2 linked regions of the Homo sapiens genome follow. The protein of the gene in region 1 purifies or fractionates together with the protein of each later gene. This does not show direct contact. Each region holds a gene or a part of one and is shown on either strand. Other genes may lie near its edges.

The links.
Region 2: the proteins of PAX8 (region 1) and NFIA purify together in Homo sapiens (co-immunoprecipitation; one large-scale study listed by IntAct). This does not show direct contact.

The regions. Positions count from the first base shown.
Region 1 is NC_000002.12:113,272,415-113,276,240, forward strand, and holds part of PAX8 (paired box protein Pax-8), read right to left. Parts: intron 1-3,826. UniProt on the Homo sapiens protein: Transcription factor for the thyroid-specific expression of the genes exclusively expressed in the thyroid cell type, maintaining the functional differentiation of such cells.
Region 2 is NC_000001.11:61,403,974-61,407,799, reverse strand, and holds part of NFIA (nuclear factor 1 A-type), read right to left. Parts: intron 3,697-3,826; coding exon 3,518-3,696; intron 1,239-3,517; coding exon 1,073-1,238; intron 1-1,072.

The sequences.
Region 1 (3,826 bases):
GTCTTGTCAGCCCTAACTCTGGACCTAAGGAAATAATTATGAATCCTCAAGATCCATTTAAAAGTGTCATTACTGTAGATAAACAAAGACGAGTGGATGCTTCTTCCTACTCCACCTCACTGCAGAGATTCCATCCATCCCAGGGTCACTGACCACTGACTGGATGAACTAGGATTGGTGTGGCAGAGTGGAGTTTTCAGGAGCCAAGAGACTCCTGGATTGTCATGCTCTGTACTCCTTCCCCACGAAAGGAATGTCTAGAACTCCTGCTGAAAGTAGTCATTGCCTGCATTTCCTAGGCAGAATGTGTTAGCTCCCTCCCCAGAAGAACCTGGGCGAAGAAGGTGTTCCAATCTGCATTTGGAAAGAATCCCTCCCGCAAAGAACTCTACACCCTCTAAGAGAAGATAACGTGAGGGCATATTCTCCTCTCTTAGAGGGTGTTTTCAATACTAAATTCTATCTCTGAAGAGAATGAGGACCCGAAGGGGGGCAGTGCACCAAGTTTTCAACTAAAACAAAAGCAAAACTAATCTGCAGTCTTGAAGGTGGGCTCATTCATTCCCCTGCCCCCACTTTTTAAAACATTTTTTTTCTTAAATGAAACAGTTTCTTTTATCTTTTGGCTTCTCGTGTACTCAGAACCATAGAGCTCAAAGCTTCTCAGCTCAACGGAGAACTCAGCACTTCTTGGACTGATAAATAGAGCAGCTTTAAAATGCTTAGAACTGAAGACAGACCAACTGTGGCGAGAGAAAGTAAACACATCCATGCACCAGTCAACCCTAGCAAGCTCCTCGCTGAGATTACAAACTGCAGTTCCTGCCTGAGCCGGAGAGGATGCTGGAGCAGGCTGGGGGACCAGAACCACAAACCAGCCCTGGCTTAGCTCTGGCTTAGCTAGCTGTGCCCCAGAAGAGCTGGGTCCTCAGGGAGTCTTCTTGCGGCCCGGTTTGGATGTTCCTAAGCATAGAAGACTCTGCCAGTGTGTCCCTCATTCGTTTCACATTTGGAAATGTACCAAGAGAAGTGGGAACCAGCTTTACTCTTTGATCTAGATGGGAATCCTTTCCTTTGCATTCAAGCTCTCTGTGTACAGGTGTAACTTGCCAGTGAGAGACTTGGGATTTCTCACAAAATAGAATGTGATAACGACATAATTTGATATGAATATTTGAGGAACTTTATCTCTGGACAATATATACTTTAAACATCCCCCTCCCCAAGTCACACACACAAATTGTTTTTATGAGAACCAATTAATAAATGCTAATTCATTGAGGCATATCTTCACTAAATTACTGTTTCATTTAATTGCAGGGAATTTTCCATTACTAAACTCTCCCTTGCTGATTTTTTTTTGCATTATTTATATACTCTTTCAATTTCACTAATAGTGAGGTTGGTATGTGATATTATCTGATGTTTGTACGTCTTAAATTTATTTTTCATTTAAAATATTTCCTCATTCTTGCAGCTCCACATAATCAGGGAGAAACATCAATAAAAGCAGGCAAGATTTTACAATAAATGGTTGAAAAAGGCACTGGCTGAAATTAACCTGACAGGAACGCGTCCTGTGTGATTGTGTTTCTCTCATTCCAGACGTGCGTGTGTGTGCGTGTGTGTGTGTCTCTACTTTGGGTTAATGTGGGAATGCTTTCCTATATCAATAAGTCACAAGTCGATCTGTGAAAAGATTGTGCATACAAAATGGAGATGAAGATCACAGGGGCTTTAATAATAAAATAAACATAAACAACACTCGAATCTCTTTATAAATCCCAGAGCACAATGTGCGTTTTCTTACTTCCTTTTCATGGACCCCAGATAAAGACTTTGACAGCCAGATATCCAAGATCCGGATCAGCCAGCTTCCTAAAATTCTCCTCTTTTTTTTTAAGGGGTAGAAAACTGGGGGTATCCCTTGGTGGTTAGGGGTTGCTTAGAGACTGTGGTAGAGATTTGGTGTTAACAAAAATGTATTTTGAAAGCAGGATTTCAATTTTCTTATATTGAATGGCAAAGGTTCCATGCACCTGGCTATCTTCATTTCTGAAATGAATGCTTTCATTTTATTCTCTCCAGCTACCTTCTCCCTTTCTTTCCTTTCCACCCCCATTGCCTCCTTTCAGTGTCTTTCTTTTTCTCCTTATTCTTTCACTCCTTTCTCTCTCACAGCAAAATGTTCTGGAGGATGTGAATGATTAAACTGTTTACTCCAAGGTTTAGGTATGAAAAGGCAAGTCACTGTAAGTAAAGTTTCACCTTTATACCCAACTCCATCAATAATTACAGAACAAGGATGACTATTAGTAAATCTTTCTTACAATTGGCTCTTACAAAAATGATTTCATTTTTTCTGGGCATACCAAGTTTGACAGATTTTACTTTTCACAAAAATTATTTACACAGCAGAGGAACCTGCTCCAAAATGAAGGAAGCATATAAAGGGCCGTTGAGTGTATCCATAGGAAAATGAATACCTATAAAATGCATCTCAATAAATTAGAGATTTGAGGCCATAAATAGAACGTTTTGACATATTATATTAGTAGATGCCCTCTAATTTAAACCAAAGTGTCCCTTAGTAATTAAAATTCCATGAGATTGATTTTTTATTTGGTTTCCTTCACTTCCTTTGTCTTCTTCAACAAAATTAGGCAGAGTCCTTTTGGGGGTAGACTGATAAAATTAATTAACTTTCCTTCCACCCCCAAAAAGTTCCAAATAAATGCTTCCAATAGACATCAAAAAAGTGTCAATTAGAAATAATTACTTCTTATCAATCAGTGGGGCAATTAAAGTGACAAAGCTTAAAAAGATACTTATCTTAAAACTAATTCACAAGGTAGCTAAATTATCTCCTAATTAACTTGCATTGTGGAGGGTGGGGGGGAACCATCTTGAAACAAAGATGAATTGATGAACCCCAATACCTCTTTATGTTCCTCAAAGTTGCTTCCATCCCCTGAAACCTTATTTTCAACCCAGGCAGGAAACCTGGGAAGAAAACAGATCCTTTCCAAATGCATTTATTCCACTTTCCTCAATTCTAAAACCAAGAGTTAGGAATGGGGCTTTAGATCTCACATCAGGGAAGTTAGAGACATCGTCCTCTGCCTTGTCTTATTTTACCACTTGAATGAACTATTTTCGGGACTGGTGGGAGTGGGCTGCGACAAGTTATTTAAGATAACTTTTAATGACAGCCAGCCTGCTTGCTTTTACAAAACTCTCTTCCTCATTGGTACAGTATTGTTTTCACTTTTATATATATGGGGCATTTATCGTTTCTTCTGCATCTTTGAATTTTTTTAAAAATGTTTTTGCTTTAGAGAATTTCGTCCCTGATGCAACAAAAATAGCGATTTTAAGGAACGTTCAGCCCATCGCTGACCTGCGCACGTTAAAATGATTCGCGTTCAACATTCCTGCAGAATAAAGCTGTAGGAAAGACAACGTTAAGACTCTCTGCAAGGCAAGACCAGCCAACGACGAGGCGACCCCGTGGCAGGCTGGGCGGCGGAGGCCGCGCGGGGAGGTTTTCTCGAGCGTCCCCGGTTATTGGGAAGGGTGCGCTCGGCCTCGCTCCCGCGGAAAGCCGTGTGGCCGCCTGCGTCCCGGGCTCTGCTCACAGAAAACTCAAGGGGAGCTCCCTAAGCACGGCCGGTCTCAGGAACAGAGGTGCCTGGGGAAAAGGGGGAACCTGCTAAAACCCGAGAGATAATGGGCTTGTAAAAACCAGAGGGGTCCGCTTATGAGTTTAGCTCCGGTTATAGACAACAGTGTCAGGTAAGCTGATCAGAAAGACAGACGGCCTCTC
Region 2 (3,826 bases), on another chromosome or scaffold:
ACTGTGGTTCAAGTTCTTGGCCTTAACACTCCTTTCCTATGCTGCTCTTACATCCTTTCCTCTGTAGATTCCTTGCCTCAGTCTCACTTCTTTTGACAACCCCCTTGAAGGCTTTCCTTAGGGTCACACTGCCACAGCTCCTATCCTTCTCTTATACTTTGCTGCCTCTTTACAGCTTTAGGGAAGGTGCTCATCACACCATCTATCAAGGCTAGGGCATCCATCACCTAGGAACTCCAGCCATCACTCTTTTTGTCATTATTCCAGGCACTAATAAAAGGCACATTTGTGCATTCAAACTATTTCTATCCCCTTGCCATATCTAAAACATCAGGGAATATCTGGAGAATTACTCTCTCTCTAGTTCAAGTAATCATTCCCATCATCTAAAAGGGTTGTGAAATCTTATATTCTTTGATTAAATGTTCTCAGACTGTTCAGAGAAGAGCCAAGACTTCTCTCCTCCTTCCATCCTACTCTCCCCTCTATCTCCGTACCCCAGCCCCTACCCCAACCTCTGCCAAACCTCACCATGCGACTGCCAGGGCTACTAGCATTGATCTTCTGCCAGGCTCTTACTCTCAGCGAATGGTCAGTGTACACACCTTTGAGTTGGTGCTTTGATCTAGACATTTTCTCCTATTTGATGTATGAGGTATATAACTTTCAAGTGCATTTCTCTTAGACTGCAAGTTCCTGGAAGGCAGGGCTGTCTGTAAGAATGAGGAACTTTTTCTAAGCAGAATCCATGTAAGTAGCTGCTGCTTGATGATGGGAATAGCATTTGAAATCCCTCAAATAATATACAAAATGTAATAGCTCATAACTTGACTTCAGTCCTAGGTATGTAGCTACACCATCTCATCCACCCAACACCCAGTGTTTTCCTCATCTGGTGGAGTACCCAAGAGTCATGTTCACTTTGATTCTCGGTCTGGCAAACTCATGCTACAACATCACTGGGGATCTGTGCCTCTTTCTAGAGCCTATACAGTGAGGGACAAAGCCTAAGTGTGGATTCCAGTGCATACAGCTTTAGAAGTGACCGGCGCCTTGTCGCAGCCATACTTACTTGGTGACGTGGGGGAGGCTGCACCTCCTTCTGTTGACGTGGTTGGAGGCTTTGTGTCTGGCACCGGCAGAGGCACAGGCCTGGCCATCGGTGGTGGCGGTGGCGGTGGCAACATTGGGGTGGGAAGGAATGGGTTGTGCACCTTGCCTTGGCTGCTCCCATTGGGCTGTGGGGGGGGGGGGGGCAGAAAACACACGTACAAGAAAAAGAAGAAAGAGACAGCAACCATTAGCTGCTTCTGAAAACAAAATATTCATCAGGCACCTTTAATGTAAATTACTAAGTATCTAGCTGCTTCAATTCTTCCATAAGCCCATACGGAAATGTCCATTGTTGGGTTCTGTTCTTAAGGCATTTCACAAAAGTACTCTTAGCCACATGTGCTCCATGCATCCTAAACTTATCTCTTGAACTACATTGTCCTTCTTTGCATCTGGTTTCATAAAATCACCTGCCAATTATCACTTTGGATTTGTCCCCTGAGTAACCAACTTTTGCTTGGAATCTTTTGTATTTTTCTGTATTAACTGCTACCTTCATTATCTTTCTCATGATTATTAAATATTTAATATCTAAGTGTTTTATGGACTGTGGCATTATTCCACTATGTTTCTTTACATAGATAGAATAAATTTTCCTAAATATGCACTTGAGATAAAAAAGTAATATTTTATTTTCACTCTTCAAAGTTGATATTATATAACATTTAATAAATGTGTTAAGTGAACATAGAAAATTTTGTTCACATATTGTATAACATCAGGCACAGAAACTTTAGAATTCAGCTGTCAGAAGTCTGCTAGGGAAAAATATCACTTCTAATTTTGATTTAAATTATATAAGCATATGCCATAAGAGTCATATTTATTTTGCTGCCTGATGTTAAAACAACCAAATAACAGCTCTTTAACAAAAAATTCCCCTCCAAAGAGAGCAATAAAACCCATTTTATTTTCAATTTTTTCAAAATAGTTTCATGAAGAGACCTGCCTTAAGTCCTATAAAATTCTGATCAAAATGCAAAACTGGGCATTTGACAGTTATATAGGGTGTCAGGACTATTACAAAAATGGTTAATAATTTAGAAGTCAGATGCTTGATGCTGGTGATCAGCTCAGTTTTTTCATTGTTTCCCAAGAGGCCTCTATTCAACCAACGACAACAGTTCACATTTAGTCCCCAATCAAAATTCGGTTGAAGGAGATTCTGCTGTCCCAGGCTTTTACATTTAAGCTTAATAATTCTACAGAGGCAGTCTCACTCCCCCATCAACATTTACTTATATATTTAGTACTTATATATTTAGTATTGCTCCTCAAAGACTACCTCGTCTGACGATCAGAATGCTGTGCTTTCTTGCCAGCAACCTTGCCTTTGCGTTATTTCTGAGTGGGCTGAGAGTCCATAAGTGAATGCTTTAGAATAAGCCAAGCAAATGAATGTACAAGCAAAAAGAAAAGAGGCACCATATTGATTTGTTGTCTAGACAGAAATGTATCTGCTAACACATCACCAGACATTAGTCAAAGCTGCCTGTTCTGGCGCAGATATGCAGAATCAGGTATTTCTGCAAGTGAAAAAAATCGGTGACAGGATGGTGTGACATACTATCCTAAATTGGCCAGTAATAATTATGGCTAGTCTGTGACTTCATGCACAGTTATTAGTAGAAAAGGAAAATCAAATTTGGCTTTATGCTGGTCGTTGTTTATTATTATTGGCCTTGAGATACAGCTTTCCACTGTAAACATCTAATCCTATATTTGAAATAAAATTTCTGATTTTTAAAAATCACTTTTACATTTGGAATGCCATTTCAAATTGTGATTATTTGGTTTATTTGAGGAAAAATAAAAACATTCATGTGAAGCTATTGAACACTGTTTAGCTTTATACCAAGATAAGTGGGAAAGATAATGACTTGCAGAAATAACAAACCATAATAAACTGTACTTTCAGCATCTTGAGTTCAAGTACTGGTCAACTTGATCTAAAGTGTTACAAGACTGTATTTTTCAAAAATATCAACTTAGTTGATCTGAAACATCTGTCCCCTTCATCTCCCTACCTTTCTCTACCACCCCAAATCATTATTTAAAACTACTTGGTCTTTCTATTTTGTTAACTGTATGAGCCCTGGGGTTAGAATGCACGAGGTGGAATGATCAGCCCACAGAACTTAGAAGGTTATATAGTTCACCCTTGAGCTGATTTATATCCATAAACTTGACAGTTGCAAACTTAACACAAACACTGTTTTTAAACCCTGACTAATCACTCTTAGACCAAGTTAACTTTCCCACAATCTAGAATAAATATGACATTTGCCTGCAGTCAGTCAGCACAACATTAGAGCACAACGTCACATGATCATAAGGTCTCCCCTTGTTATTTTTATATTCGGCTAACATTTCTAAAGAAATGGAAAAAAAGAGGTTTCCTTACATTGAGGAACCCCACCTGTCCAGCCTGCTGACCAGCATCAGGGCAGACAAGTTGGACAAATTCTTTCAGCGTCTCCTGAGGGTGATAGCGGATGGCTGGGTGTGAGAAGTAAGGCCCAGGCTGCTGGATAATGGGTGATGTCGGGAAATGAAGAGTCGATGGTGTTGCATGCGGACTTGCTGCAGGAAAAGAAAACATCAGGGTTATGAAAAGAAAGACCTGCTTTGTCATAGCTGAACCCGATTCAACTTCCTCCTTTATTTCTCTTCCTGGCCCGATTCACAATATTGCTCATGTGACTGAATTTAA